Linked DNA regions of Homo sapiens: region 2 is linked to region 1. Evidence: fine-mapped expression QTL. Tissue or cell type: whole blood. Region 1 holds a variant in brackets; the other region holds the start of a gene. All regions are shown on one strand. Distances are from middle to middle.

What was found. PIP is the estimated chance that this variant, and not a neighbour inherited with it, causes the effect.
Region 2: it holds the start of MICAL1, and the variant in region 1 is fine-mapped to the expression of MICAL1 in whole blood (TOPMed, PIP above 0.99).

What each region holds. Positions count from the first base shown.
Region 1 is chr6:109,067,841-109,076,191 of GRCh38, forward strand. All of the region lies in intron 1 of SESN1 (sestrin 1), which reads right to left. Among named protein-coding and RNA genes, the nearest start is that of SESN1, 23 kb to the right of the region's middle. The variant A/G (reference allele first, on the strand shown) is at 3,988.
Region 2 is chr6:109,451,893-109,459,892 of GRCh38, forward strand. MICAL1 (microtubule associated monooxygenase, calponin and LIM domain containing 1) reads right to left here and starts at 3,880. Exons shown (of 25, transcript NM_022765.4): 1 at 3,827-3,880; 2 at 2,047-2,347; 3 at 1,746-1,953; 4 at 1,371-1,475; 5 at 619-723; 6 at 354-509. The coding sequence starts at 2,304. RefSeq lists enhancers at 2,472-2,521, 2,752-2,801, 2,884-3,392, 7,252-7,301 and silencers at 2,952-3,291, 3,652-4,501.

The sequences.
Region 1 (8,351 bases):
CCTACTCTACCCTGTTTTGTGCTTCAAAATGCTCACCACTATGGACTGTATCATTACGGTACTCTTACTGTTTGGTTTATGATAGAGAGGCACTAACAAATTGGAGGACAGGGAGAAGAAGGTCAGGGTATTTATTCTGAAGGCAGAAGTGGGTATATTCCTCTATTGAAGGCCACAGTTCCTGTTAGGCAGGCAGGCTTCTCTTATAGCTGCAGACCTCACTGAGTTCCAGTAACTACACTCAACCTTTGCCCCTGAAGTTTGGGGGGGACAGTGACTTCCAGATGTCACTAGTTCAAAATGCCCATCATCCCTTCTTGGTTTCTCTTAACCCTGCATACACCTTTGTAGACAGTCCTTTTTCTCTTTAGTCACCCCAGCTGAGTGTGCCATCCATTTTCTGCTAGGATCCTGGCTGATTCAGCAGGGAGAAAAAGAAACTAATTAAAAATTTAATTGATATCATCAGAGAATAAAATACTCATAATATAAGAACTGGCTGCTCAGAGAAAGTAACAATCTGAGAATACAAAAGAGTTATTGAAAGTTAAAAACATGGCTGCTAAATAAACATGTCAATAGAAGAACTGAATAATAGAACTGGGCTGAAGGGCAAATTTGTAATTTGGAAGATAAGTTCAGGGAACTCTCCAAGATATAAAGTAAAAAGACAAAAAAGAAACGGTATATGAAAAAAGGTTAAGATGAAGGTCTAACACTTAACTATTGGTCAAAAAAGGACAGACATAAGAGATATAATAGAGGAGAAGTAACAAAAGAGAGGATAGAAGAGTAATTTGAGATTCAATCTTTATATTGAAAAGACCCAAGCATAGTGGGGAGAAACATATTCTGACATACACCAGTGAAATTTCCTGGGCTTTTTTTTTTTTTTTTGAGGCAGAGCTTCACTCTTATTGCCCAGGCTGAAGTGCAGTGGTACGATCCTGGCTCACTGCAACCTCCGTCTCCTGGGTTCAAGCAATTCTCCTGCCTCTGCCTCCCAAGTAGCTGGGATTACAGGCACCTACCACCATGCCTAGCTAATTTTTTGTATTTTTAGTAGAGATGGGGTTTCATCATGTTGGCCAGGCTGGTCTGGAACTCCTGACCTCAGGTGATCCACCTGCCTCGGCCTCCCAAAGTGCTGGGATTACAGGTGTGAGCCACCGCGCCCAGCCGAAATTTCAAACTCTAAAGATAAATGAAAGCATCTTAAGTTCCCAGAATGTCCTTCTTCTTAGGAAAAACATGATAAAGTATTTTGGGGTGAAGTGTTTGTAACTTTCAAGAGGTTGAGCAAAAGGAGAGAAAAAAACAGAGAAGGCCATCGTGGCAAAATGTTAACAATACGTGACTCTAGGTGAAGGGTATATGGCATTTTCCATACTATTTTTTGAACTATTTGATAGGTTTAAAAAAAAAGTTGCGGAAAAAAGAAAAACAAGCCTCCTAGAGAGGGGTAAAATAAAACAAACAAACAAAAAAAAACACCAAGTTCCATGCTAAAAGAATAAGAATGAGACTGGCATAAGACTTCTCATTATAAACACCAGATGCTAGAAAATAATGGAATAATGCCTTCACAGTTATGAGAGAAAATGATTTTAACCTAATATTCAAATCAACTGTAACAAAATCTGAGGTAAAAGTAAAAACATCTTCAAATATTCATGGGCCAGAAAACTTAATTCCCACAAACTTTAATTTTTTTTTTTTAAGACTGGGTCTTGCTCTGCCACCCAGACTGGAGGGCAGTGATACAATCATAGCTCACTGTTACCTGGGACTCCTGGGTTCAAGTGATCCTCCCACCTCAGCATCCCAAGTAGCCAGGACCACAGCCGTGTACCACGACACATAGCTAATTTTTACTTTTTATTTTTTTGTTGAGATGGTGGGAGGGGGGGTCTCACTATGTTTCCCAGGCTGGTCTCAAACTCCTGGCCTCAAGAAATCCTCCTGCCTCAGCCTTCTAAAGTGCTGGGATTATAGTTGTGAGCCACTGCACCCAGCCTCCACAAACTCTTAAGAAAATTAATACTGAGCTTATGAAACTTAAAAAACATAGCAATGAATTACTTAAAAAATGTGATGAAACCACATCTTATTATCACGCTAATCCAAGCATTACATCACCTACTGCTGAAACAATGCAACAGCCCTTTAACTGGTCTTCATGCCTCCTTTGTTGTACCTATCCATGCCCCACACAAGAACCATCATTTTATTTTAATGTTCCATTTTATTTTTTTAAATGTAGGTAACAGATTCACATTGAACAAAATACTTTCACGTGATTTGAATGTAGGAAGTGCAAAAGAGCATTAAGTCTCTGAGACCCAGAGAGTGGGGCCCCTACACTTTAGAGGGCCTGCTGTGGACCTCCTCCAGCTGCACCCCTCTGAGAGATGAAGTCCACAGGACTAGGGCATGTGCCCACCCAGATTATGCTTCAGGTACTTGGAACCGTAGGAATCTCTACTCAAATGGGCTGAGCCAGCTCTCTGGGCCTACACATGGGTTGTCCTCCCTATGGCTGAACACAAGGCCCATGTACGCAACCTTAGGCTCAGAAAGTGGACAGGCAGCAGCTGTATGTGGGGTGTGCAGCAGCTGATGTGAGGGCAGGGTGTCTATCCTTCATAGTGTAGGGGTGGGTGGGATTGGGGTGGGAGAACAGCATAGACAGGCCACCGCCAGGGCCCACCAGTTGAAATGGGCTTATGAAAACGTATACAGTGAAAAGCCTTGGACTCATTCCTGTCCCCAGCCAATGGCTACTTTTTCCAAAGACAACTACTGTTTCTAATACAAGTTAATCACTTTAAATCAAAAATCTGAAAATGTAATCTCCAACCTAAAGGATTTTAGTGGTTCTCTATTACTGTTAAGATAAAATCCAAAATTCTTAAAGTGGTCAACATAGCATTTTTCAAACTATAACATTCATTAGAACCATTTGGGGATTCAAGTCTGATCCAGTAGAACTGGGGTGAGGCTTGAGATTCTGCATTTCCAATATCTTCCCTAAGTGATACTGATGCTGCTGACCCATAGGCTACACCTTGAGTAGTAAGAGCGTATAAGAAATTAATATTCCTTTTGAAGCTATGACTTCAGCTACCCAGGTAGGGAAGGACGTTTTCCTCCTGGTTTACCCATCTCATTTAAAGAGAAAAAGCTACAGTCAGTCCACACAGATGGGAGAGAGGGTGGGTAGAAACTGCCAAGTAATAATAATAGCTAACATTATTCATTCATTCAACAAACATTTGTTGGACAATGTATGTGATAGCATTGGTCTAGAGGGTCCAGCAATGAACAAGAAAAAGTCTCAGTCTTCCTGGAGCTTATAACCTACTAGGGCAGACAGAATAAATATATAAGTAAATAACGAGTTCAGGTCGTGTTTGGGGCAAAGAAGAAAAATAAATCAAGATAAGGATCTAGAGGGTAAGAAGAGGTGCTATTTTAGATAACTAAGGCATATACAAAGATAGTTTTTGTTTCTTTTTTTTTTTTTTTACCATACTAAGTTCTAAGACAGGCACAATGCTAAGTACCTTAAAGAGATGAAGGTCCTTTTATCTTCATTTTGCTGATGATAAACTGAAGCTCAGAGATGGTAAGTAACTTCCTCGAGGTTAGACAGGCAGAATCGGGATATGGACCCCGGCAGTCTAGGATCAATTTCTGTGTTAATATGTATTTCCTGTTCATGTTACATGAGGGCTGCAACTCTGCTGTGCTCAGCTGAGCTCCCTGTGTTTTCATATTCTGGAAGCCAGACTTAAACTTTTAACCTGTAAACTGCCAGGTGAGGGCCTGCCAGTTTAAGACCAGCATCATAAGAAACTCAAGTACAAATATTCACCAGACACACTGCAAGAATGTGTCTTGTACTCACTCAGCAGACTCAGAGGCACGAGCTAACATTTAGTCAACAAAAATTTCCCTTTGTTGGTTTAAAACTCCCCAGTTTCA[A/G]TCACTTCAATTTTTCTCTAAAGTTTAAGGAAAATAAGTTTAACATGCAGCAGGTCACTCTCGTTTTAGCAATGGTTCTTAATCTTTTAAGATCACAATCTCTTTGAAAATCTGATAAAACACGGGCTCTCTCCCAAGAAAAATGCAAGTGAGTACACAGTTTTGCATGCAGCTTAAGGGGTTCAGACACCTAAAATAGCAATAATCCTCAATTTGAGAATGCTTACATTGTAGCATCTTCCAAAATAAATCTCTGCTCTGAAAACTTTCTTCTCCCTGGTGAAGGGAGTGATCCTCTTTTACTAATTACTTAATTTAATTAAAACACAGTTAACTCTTAATTATTAGCATTTCAAAAATACAGCTTTATCCTCTAACACAGTTCTGCAGCAAAAAAGAAAAAGGACCTAGCTAGCTGTTAAGAATTAATTATTTCAGCTTCCTGAAAGGCAAGTTTCAATGATAGGTTATCTATGTGTGAATTAGCCATAAATATTTTTATTGTATAGTGGGTGATTTCCCTTCTATAGTCAGTAGTTTACAACAAGTATGTTGTTGAATATAACTCCAGTCCTTGAGAAACACAAGCATAATTTCCCTAAGTCACATATAATTTCCCCAAGTCGCATGTTTTTAGAGAAAGGTAAATTTGTTCCTTCTGCCCTCTAAAAACCATGAAATGCATCTCTAGACTAAGAAATGATTTAGGCTTCTGTATCATTTTTCAGCTTCATAGTATATTGTTGATTTTACTTTTTTTAATAAACAAAACACAGTACTACTAAAATGTAAAATGACACAATGGAGAGAGCAGGCAAGTAAAACAGTAACTTTTGATTCTTGATGCCTCATGTTTAATTATACAATGACTGAACCATAATGTGGTAGAGCTCTTAATACAACATACCCAAATTATTGCATGGCTAATTCAAGGAGTTTAAAGTAAACAGGAATATAAAGATGCTTAAATAAATACTTAAGGCCAGCTGTGTTTGTGACTTGAAAGAGAGCTAAGGCAACACGATAGTTGACTACGGAATCACCAAAAAATACAGACATTTTATCTAGTCAATTTTTTTTTTAATAAAATGGCAAAGATATTTGAATTAAGCAGATTTAGAAAAAATTATAAATAGGTAAATTTTTATTATTTGCATTCAATAGAATAAAAAATAAAGTGTTTTTTTGTTTGTTTTTTTAGTTTCAAGAGGCAGTATAGTATTGAAATTAACAAAATAAACTCTGGAGACCAAATGTCTGAGTTTGAATCCTTGCTCTGCCATCTGCACTAGCTAGGTGAACAGGGGCAAATTAGATAACCTCTTTGTGTCTCAGCCTCCTATTAAATGGGTGAATGCATGTACAGAGTTTAAAGTGGCACCTGCAAAAAAAAATCCAAGCATTTGAATGTAAGCTCTACGAGGGTAGTGATTTTTATCTATTTTTCCCTTTAGTGCATATGAGTACCTAGAACAGTACTAAAGATGGTAGGTGCTCAAAAAATATTTGTGAAATGAATGACTGTTATCGTTGTTATTATATGGTTATTTTCTCAATAGATGGAAACACTAAATCAGTTAAGCTCGGCTATTTAAACTTGGAAACTTTGGTCTCTTTTCCCCAACCCCCCTTTAAAAACATAAGTGTTGTGACATTGCAAACCCGTCTTCTCCTAAGACCCACAGCACCAAAATATGGGCAACAAACTAGATTTTGGTTGAGCAAGAGTGCCATCTAGCGCTCATAAAAGCTAAAAGCTGAGAATTAGGAGTAAATTTTTATTCAGTGTAAACACAAAGGGGAAAAAACCCACAAATGCAAAACTCATTAGGAAAAAATATTCTTCATTAACAGCCAAGGTGTTTGAAAGAAAGTTATTTCTAAATAAAAATCTCAGCTTTAAAAGTTGGTATATACCATATTAGAAGAGACATTTCAGAGAGTACAGTTTACTGAAGTTCTACTTACCTTAAAAGCCACTCTTCTATGAATAGAAAGTGGTGTTTTGACTTATTTTCTTTTTAATGACATGTGTTTGGTCTCATTATAATAGATTAACTCATTATAGAAATCTTGGAAAAATTAAGAAAAGCATAAACCACTGCCAAGAGAGATAACCGCTATTAGTATTGGGACATACAGTCACGTGTCACATAATAACATTTTGGTCAACAATGGACCATATATACTATGGTCATCCCATAAAATTATCATGCAACATTTTTACTGTGCCTTTTCTATGTTTAGATAACACAAATACCATTGTGTTACAATTGCCTATTCATTACAGTAATGTGCTATCGAGGTTTGTAGCCTAAGAGCAATAGCCTAGATATGTAGTAGGCTATACCATCTATGTTTGTGTAAGTACATTCTATGATGTTTGCACAATTATGTAATTGCCTAACAATGCATTTCTCAGAATATATCTGTCATTAAGCAACACATAACTGTATATATGTGTGTATATATGTATATACCTTCTAGATTTAAAATATACATTAAAAATAGTTTAATTTTAATAAAACATTTGGCCAAGATGCTAAAAATGAAATGAGAAAATTATAAATATTGATAATTTGTTTCTCTACTAAAATCAAGAGCTTTCTCTGTCATTGAAAAGCTCTCATCTCAACATTGTATTCAGTGGGTTAAATTTTTAAAATAAATTGCTATAAATTATGTAATCATTTGTGGGTAGCTCTACAATAGCCAAAATACATAAGAATTATGGTTTATAAAGTGAAAAAAGACAAAATTATTTCATCTGTTCCTTATAAATAACACAAAATTGATAGTAAAGTACACCAACTTGACTTTGGGTGATCTGAATAAAATTTGGGTTTGCTTAATATTTAATCTCACTCCTTATTCATTTGACAATGCTCATTAAAGTTTTGGGATTTGCTTTTAATTCTCTTTCCCCTCAAATCATAGACACAGAAGAGATTTGACTCACAGCTCACTAGAGAAGTATCAAATGATGAAAAGAAAGCTGACTGCCATTTCCTACCTTTTGGACAAATGCTGTTTTGCTTTTAGTACCAAGAATGGGAAGTAAAACATTTCCTAAAGTTGCATAGGAATAATGGTTGACAAGAGTCATGGAGGAAAGGAAGAACGAGGAAGATGAAGAAGCTGCTAGAGCCAGGCAGGCCTCTCCCACTGAGGCATGGTGAGCCCCACCTAGTGAGGGGGCAGGCACTGGGGTAGAGCATCTATTGTTCAGGCTGGTGTGAGGCTCCTTTATCTGGAGAATGGTTGCAAAGGTAGGAAGAAGTCGAGACTGGACTCATACTATCACTAGCTGAAGCACACTCTATTCTGACATTAATCAGGTTTCTAAGCATATACCCTAAATCACAGCTCTCTTCATAGTATGCAGGAAGGACTCTTTTCCTAACTCCTAGCTTCAGGAGATAGGTTGTTAGGGTAATGGTTCCCAATGGCTTTTAAAATGGTTCCTAATGATCCTCCTGGTATTCACTCTTTTCTGTAATCTGTTCCTTTTGAGTATGGACTAAACCTAGTTGGCTGGTTTCTAATGAAGTGATTAAGGTAAAAGTTATGGGATGTTTTTTCCAAGATTAGGCTATAAAAGACTGTGATTTCTGTCTTGCTGGCACTCTTTCTCAGGCTAATACTCTCTCCAGCTCCTCACGTTTCCTTTGAAGAAGCAAATGGAAAGGCCCATGTGGCAAAGAACTGAGGGTGGCCTCCAGCTAACATAACTAAGAACTTGAGGCCCTCAATCCATTAGCCTGCAAGGAACTGAATCTTACATCATCTGAATGAACTTGGATGAAAACTCTTCCCAATTTGAGCCTTCAGATGAGACCATGGCCCTGGCAGATACTGTAATTGCAGCTTTATAGGAGACCCTGAAACAGGGATCCCAGCTAAGGTGTAAGCAGATTCCTAATTCACAGAAATTGTGAAATAATAGTTGTGTGTTGTTTTAAACTACCAAATTTGTAATGAGGCTATAAAAAACTAATTCAGTTGTTAAAAAAATAAAAGCTCCTCAACACCCCCTCCCCGACCCCAGAGGGAATGACTCTGAGGGTCTTTTTCCTCGGCTTGTGGAAGCCTCTGCAGTAACCACCTAAGCCTGGACCCTGCTCCTCCCTTTGGCATGACTGACACTTTCACAAATTAGGTCCTCTCCAGTTCACTGCATAGTCTCTCTCTGTCATCCAAGGGCTTCTGCACTTTCCCCAACATCTGAAATAAATAATATGATGTTTGAGCAAACTTCCTAGTTCCATGCTTCAGTGACCAGACCAGATTGGAATCTAAGTGCATGTGTGGTTTCTAAGATAAATCATCCATCTTTATTATGTATCACTAATTGTACTGTGGTT
Region 2 (8,000 bases), 380 kb after region 1:
AGAGCAAAGAGGGAAGCTTGGAGGGGGGTGGCATTTGGGAGACCTGCACCACCTGGTCGCATGGCAGTGCAAAACCAAAGTAAACAGAGGCACCTTCTTGAAGTACCACTTAAGCAAAACTCCCATACACAGGTTCATCTCTGAGAGATTCCAGGACTTTTCATGCTGGGTGATCAACTAGGGCTGTGCTTGCTTAATCCCTGAGGGGACAGGTTCCTTCTCCTTTGCTGCTGAGACCAAAAAAACAGAAAAGTGTGGAGTTCCTTGCAGTGAGGACAAGTTTGGAAGGGAGAGGCAGGAGCCAGGCCACAGTCAGGCAGGGGGAGGGGAAATTCAGCAAGAGGGTCCCTGACCTGTGGCTTTGAGAAGGCTCTGGAAGAAGCTCTGGTTGTAGATCCTGGCTACACCACTGATCTCCGGCACCTGTGTCTCCTCCACGGTGCGTCCATTCACAAAGTTGGCTGTGATGCCAATGGCCAGTTTGCCTCGCATTTCTCGAACTTTGAAGCCTAGAGGTGGCGGTAGGTGAACAATGGCAGGAGGAGGGGGTTATAACAATCTAGAAAGGCCCAGGATGTGCCAGAGATGCTGGCTTCTTTGAGGGAAGTGATCACTCACCTTCAGGGACGAATTTACCTCCTGCAGCCGAGATAAGGACGTCAAATTCATAGTTGGCCAGCTGGGCAGGGGGGTTGGGTTGGAGCTGGGCACGCCAGCCACTCCCTAGGGCAGGGGGTATGAGAGGCACAAAGGTGTAGAAGTCGTAAGAGCCCCTATACTCTCAGGACAAACCAGTGAAATCATCAAAACGTGTAAAGGACTCTCTGGTTTAGAAAGCAATGATATATTATCTATCAGATTACACCTTCACAGCAGCTATGGAAGGCAGGTGAGGAAGGAAGTGTTATTCTTGTTTTGCAAATGCTCAATCTGAGGCTCAGAGTGGCTTGCCCAAGGCCACACTATTAGAAAAGGAGACTCCTGGCTGGCATGGTGGGTCACGCCTGTAATCCCAGCACTTTGGGAGACCGAGGTGGGTGGATCACTTGAGGTCAGTAGTTCGAGACCAGCCTGGCCAACACAGTGAAACCCCGTCTCTACTTAAAAAAATACAAAAATTAGCTGGGCATGGTGGCACATGCCTGTAATCCCAGCTCCTCAGGAGGCTGAGGCAGGAGAATCACTTGAAACTGGGTGGCAGAGGTTGCAGTGAGCCGAGATCATGCCACTGCACTCCAGCCTGGGTGACAGAACGAGACTCTGTCTCAAAACAAAAACAGAAAAGGACACTCCTGGCCCATCCTTTTTCAGACACTGGCCAAGTTCTTGATGGGGGAGGGGGAGATTCCAGGGAGCATAGAAATACTTACCCTTCCTAGGAGGGGGCTGGAGGCCAGTGAAAGTGACACCCCAGTGAATTTCCACCCCCAGCAGCAATGCTACCTTCAGCAGAAGCAGCTGGAGCTGCCTGATGCCTGGAAGGGAGAGGACATTAGGAACAGGGACCCTAGGGCAGCACAAGCTCCCCATGTACCAGTGTGTGCCTGGTCAGGGTCAGACTGGAAAAGGCCTTAGCAATCACTCAGCCCAAAAGCCCACTTATAGATGGGGGACCTGAATCTTCAAGGTCACCTGGCTGATACGGATCTTGTCCACTTCGACATTTGGCTGTCCCAGCATTTCCCCACTGGCCTGCCTCTAGGCCCAAGCTCACCCGCCCCTCCAGGCCACCACGTGGTGCTCACTGATGTGGTCCAGGGTGCCGGTGCAGAAGCGCCCGTAGAACTTCTTAGCACCGAGTGCCCGCAGGTCGTGGATGGTGAAGGGCCAGAGGTGGAGCACGTTGTGGCGAGAGAACTTGGTGCGCTTTTCCACCAGCACCACTCGGGCCCCCAGCAGCGCCAGCTCCACAGCGACCCGCAGCCCGCAAGGTCCAGCACCCACCACCAGGCACTGTGAACACACAGGGCAGTGAGGGCATGGCATCCTGTCCGTCCTCTGACTCCCCGCATGCTCCACACCCCATCCCAGGCACCGTGTATCCACCTTGGTGCTGGTGCAGGCCCGGCCCTGCTGGTAGACAGGCTGGCCTGCTCGCTTGTCCAGCTTGGTCCACAGTGACTTGGCGCTCCAGTAGTTGAGCTGGTCCTTGATCTTGTGGTACTGGGGCAGCCCCCCACCGGGTTCCAGCCCCAGGGCCCCACACAGCTCCTGGAAGCTGCTCAGCACGTCCTGGCACAGCTGGGCCTGCAGGAAGCTCTCAAAGTGGGCATGCGCTGGGTTGGTGGAGGTAGGTGAAGCCATGGAGGCCTCCTGGGGAGGGCAGCAGCTGGGCAGAGATGAGTGGCTGGAGAGGTGGAAAAAGAAGGGGAAGAGGCTGGAGAACAGAAGAAATAAAAAGGAAGGGGAGGCGAAGAGAGCAGGCTGGTGTCCCCAGGGAGCTCGGGATTCACCAGTGATTGGCTCTGCTCCTCCCAGCCCATTCCCCTGCCAGCATCTGCTCCAGAGACAGCTGCTATCCAGTCCACTCCAAGTGAAATTTGCCAAATTTGGAAGTGAAAAACATTAGTCTTGGGCACAGAGGGCACATGGGACACCAGGGGAGCCTCCAGTTCAGCCTCCCTGTCCAGGGATCTCCAAGCCCTGGGGTAGGAATTCTTAGCCTGCCTTCCTTAGGCCTTGGAATCAGGGTGTGCGGGGATTTCTTAGATGTGGAGAGGACAGAGCTGCCTTTGCATGCAACACAGGGACAGATCTGATACCCACAACCCCAGCTGCTGAGCATACATCCTGCCCCATCTCCCTCCAAGCGTCCCTGTGCCGGCGCCCCTTGATGGCCTCAGTGCCACGCTGTGTCTGAGAAGTGTCTCATGGCAAGGGCAAAGTTTTCCTCAGCACTCGTGCTTGCCTCCTGACAGAGAAACAGCCTCTGTCCGCGTAGGTTCCACTTCCCTCCACCAAACTGCCTCAACAAACGGCGGGAGGATGTTGCGACTGACTGGGGAACGGAGGCCTGGGTCTATTTCTGACGCACTGTGGTCAAAACACTTCCTCTGTGAATGTGCCCTACTCCAGGGGGCCGTGGGTAGGGCTGGGGGTCGACCGCAGCCGGGTGCGCCCCTCCCAGGTTCCCCCCTCCCTGATCGACCCCTACCCCGCCCCGCCCCCTGTGCGCCCGGGCGCGCTCTCCCAGGAATCTCCGGAGACAAAGCCTCGCTTTGTCGCCCCCTCCCACGCCACCTGAAGGGTGCCCGAGGGGGTTTCTCACGCGGGGCCCAGAAGGTATCAGAGGGTATGGAGGAGGCGGGTGTCCACGGCAGCGTTAGGGAGGGTGAATGGCAGCAGTGGGGGCAGGTCCCTGAGGCTCAGGCCCCTCCACCATCCAGCTGCCCCTCCGTTCCCAGCCCGCCGCGCCGAGACAGGAGATGAAAGCCTCCCGCTGCGGGTGGCCCGGACGAGGGCAGACGGAATCTCATGACGGAAGGGCAAAGATCTTTCTTGGGGGTGGAGGGTGGAAGGAGGAAGACCTCGGCGAAAGGGGAGAAAGGAGCGACCCAGCCTGGAAACGCCAGGACAAAGGCTGTGAGAGGGGTGGAGCGGTCTGAAAGGATGGAGAGGGAGCTGGACCGCGGGCGGCAGCGGTGGGGGTCCCCGACACTGGACGGCAAAGTCCGGACGCGGCGTGAGCAGGGCTGGGCTGAGGGAAGACCTGCCTGACCTGCCAGGCGTGGTTCCCGAGCGACCGCAGCTGCGTTTCCCCGGAAGCGCACCCCACCTCACCCCACCCGGCCGCGGGGCTCGCAGCCGGCTCCGCTGGACGACTTACCGGCGGCTCCGAAGCCGGGAGGGGCCGCTTCCTGTTGGGCTGGCAACCAGGTCTGAGCGGGTGGGAGGGCGGGGGCGGGGGCGGGGGCGGAAACGCCGAGATCGGGCGGGGATGCTGGGATGCGGGGCGGCCCGGGGCGTGCGCCTGGAGTCGCGCGGAGTGTGGGCTTCCGCGAGGGGCGCGGGGCGCCGCCCGGGCTTTATTCGCGACTCATTAGCATCTCATTACTTCTGGATCCCTCTACCGCCTCCAGCGGGGACAGTCTTGGGCCCGCCCATGCCTGCAGGGTGGCGCCCGAGGGCGTGGCGCTGCGGACACCCCGTTCCGCTCTGGGGCCTCTGGGTGGGTCTGGCCTGTTGGGGGCTGAGGAGCTCGAGGGTCAGGGCGCCCAGTGCTGGACCGCGCACCCTCGGCCTGGGCTCCTTGCCGGTGCTTGCGCGTGCAAGGCTAGCTCTTTCCCCGCCGCAAGGCGAGGACCACCCGCCCCCGCCGCGGTCCCAGGTCCGCTGGCAGCCTCCCAGCGCCGGGCCGAGAGGGCGCTCAGGCTCCTCAAGAGGTTTGGAAAAGCCGGCGGGTCCGAGGGTGGCGCCGGAACGTCTGCGCTCTCCTCCGGTCTCCCACCTGGAGATCCACGGCCCGGGCGCCCCAGGATGGATCCAAGCGCAGAGTGCGCCTCCTGTGACAGAGGTCGACCCCTAAGCCCGGGCCGAGGGCAAAGGGCGCGGATTAAAGTCCTGGAAACTCAGCAATCTGCAGCTTCCAAATGGATATGAGAAGTGAGAGGGAAGGGGATGGCGGGGCGGGTTAGACCACCACTAAGAGATGGGGAATGGGAGGGGTGTGTGGAAGAGAGACCAAGTCTTCAAAGAATGCCTTAGAGTGAGGACCCACGGGACTGTCTGCTGAAAAGGGCTGGAGAGGCCTTTGGGATCAGCTTCGTCGTATTCCCGATAAGGAACAGCGCCTAAAGTGAAGGGACGCGTCCAGTCTTTTAGCTAGTTAATATTAAAAAACATCGTCTCATTTATTGACCGTCATCCTATGAGTATTACCTCAACATCAGTGCTTGCAACAGTCCCATTTTACCAAAAAGGAAACTGAGTCACAGATGTTCTGTGATCTGCACACAGCAAGTGGCAGAGCTGTTTGGGGGCCCAGGTCTGTCGGCTCCACCACCCCAGGGTTGACCCAAAATGACGCATGAAAGGCTGGCATTATAAGATGCTGTTTCTTGTTTAGACGAAGTGATACTGTTACACTGGAAGCACTAATAAAACCCAGGTATAAATAAGAGGGTTGCTGTCCTTGAGATCCAGAGACCATAAAGAGCTGGGAGGGAATAGGGCCTCTCCCTTTATTCTCATTTTGCATTTCATCTGGAAAATATCTGAGACCCAGTAAGACCTGAACACTCACTGTTCCCAGCTCGAGCTGAGAAGCAGGCAGTGGGACGAAAGCAAGGGGAAATGCCTGTTCTCTGCCAGGAGAGGCGAGGGAATTCAGCCAGGTCACGCTCAGAAAACTAGGGCAGCCTCTCAGTTGGGCCCATCCTAGCTTTTGAGTGTGACACGTCATTTGGCTTGAAATGAATTTGCCGAATATCAGACACACCCATATTTAAATACATGGTGTAAAAACGTTCTAAAGTCCACTACAGCTGGGTTACCCTGGGCTCCACCACCCCAGGGTTGATTCAAAATGATGCGTGAAAGGCTGGCATTATACGAAGCTATGTCTTGTTTAGAGGAAGTGAACTGTCACGCTGGAAACACTAATAAAACCGAGGAATAAAGAGGAGGGTTGCTGTCCTTGAGATCCAGAGACCATAAGAGATCCAGAGACCATAAGAGATCCCGAGACAGTCCCTGGCTTCTAGAATAATCTCATTTCCCTTTCACTAGCAGATGGTACACAACTAGCCGCTCCACTTACTACAACTACAGCGGCTACAACTAGCCGCTCCACTTTGCAAAGGCTTAGTGGGGTCTGGCTTGACTCAATGCCTTTTGCCAAGCAGGGTCATGTGGCTCTATGAATGACACATCATAAAATTTGTCTTTAAAGAAGATCAGAGAACAATAATGAGTTCATCAGTGCTAAAAACTGCTGACTTGAAGTTTCAACTTATGCTAATTAAATACTTAACATGGGGGCATAAAGCAGCAGGGAATACATTGTTCTGGAATCCAGAAGGTCTGGTTGGATTCCAGCTTTGCTTCACGCTAGCCTAGTGTGACCTTGGATGTCACCAACCACACTTCGTCTGCCCATCTCTAAATGGAGGCAGTTTAATTACTCAGCCTTCTCAGCCCATTTCTACTCCAAAATCCTATCATTCAATGCTGTCCTAAGAAATGAACAGACTAGAAGACCCAAACCAAGTTCTACTTAGAATTTCTTCCAAGAAAAAAAAAAAAAACTCTATTAAAGCTATTTATTAACCACAAGAATTTCTCTCCTTAATTAGAATCTTGAGTCATGATTCAAATTATGTGTATGTAGAACTAAAAATACTGGCACAATCACATTGGCCAATTCATATTGGATCAAATAAGTGGGTGACACATGAAGTCAGTTTAAAGAGTCCCATTCTAAGGCTGGGCACAGTGGCTCATGCCTGTAATCCCAGCACTTTGGGAGGCTGAGGCGGGCAGATCACCTGAGGTCGGGAGTTCGAGACCAGCCTGAGCAACATGGAGAAACCCCAACTCTATGAAAAATACAAAATTAGCCAGGCATGGTGGCACATGCCTGTAATCCCAGCTACTCAGGAAGGCTGAGGCAGGAGAATCGCTTGAACTCGGGAGGTGGAGGTTGCGGTAAGCTGAGATCGTTCCATTGCACTCCAGCCTGGGCAACGAGGGTGAAACTCCGTCCAAAAAAAGAAAAAAAGGAGTCCCATTCTAATGTTTTTGCAAACGGTAAAACCTAGCAGTAGCCTAGGTTAAAACCTGAGCCATTACGACAGGATCCTCCTTCCTCTGCCCCATACCATGTTCTGTCACCTCCCAATTTCTTATCTCCTGGGCCCAGAAACTGGGTCCCTAGTACTGTAGGTGGCATGTTTAAGTCACCTGTAATATGGCTTTGTACCTGCAGGCCAGTATCTTCAAGCAACAAACCCATGGTCCTGGGCCGGGAAGCTGTGGCTGCAGTATAGCCAGAGACAGAGCCCATGATTTAAAAAGTGACATCTGCGCCAAAGGTGTAGAGAGTGCCATGAGAGGATGTGACAACATGGTTTGATTGAGGTTAGAGGACAGATGAGTACTCATGAATCAGAGTGGGGGCAGACAACTTTCAAGGCTGAGAAACCACCTGCCACAAAGCCTTCAGGCAGGAAAGAGCTGGGTATGTTTGGGGAACACCAAGGAACCACGTGACGAAATGAGAATGGGGAAGAGGGTCCCAAGAGGAAGTTGGAGATTTTATTCTAAAGGCCAATGGAAACTCTGTAGAAGGATTTTAAGCAGAGCAGAGACACGGTCATATTTATCTTAATAACTAATGCAAATCCATTCATTCAGCAAGGCACTCTGTTTGATGCTAAGCTAAGGGTACAATGGTGAGCCCAAACAGATCACCACTTCCAGTGGAGAAAGCCCAGCAGGAGGTGGTAGAAAGGATCAATCAGGTCTTTGTCAGGAGTACAGGCAAGTGACATGGTATAGTGAGGATGGGAGAAGTGGATGGAGTCAAAAGATATTTCAAGGTGAAACTGACATAACATGGCCATGAATTGGGTGTGGGGGTCAGGTGGGCCCCTTCAAGAATGACACCCAGCTTTGTCTCTTGGCTTGGAGTGGGTAAATCACAAACTTGGGGCCCCCATTCTTTCCTATTTTTCCTTCCCACCTTATTCCTCTGTATGCTGCTTTTTACTCAATACCTTCCCCAGAAGTCAAAGCACAATTATGATTTCATAGATTCTGAGATAACACAAGGACTCTACCTTGAGAGGCTGCAAAGATTAAACACATAAATAGGTTCAGGATCAGTTAAATACTTGCCCATATTTTTGTAATAAGACTGCCTTTGCCCTTCAAACACTAAGATTATAAGAAACATTTATCCAGAAGCCACTTAATTAACCAAACTAAAATTATCTTGACAGGTGGATTTTTAAAATGTAGTTTTGTTTTTAACTCTGATTTAGTCTAAGGAAGCTTCAGTT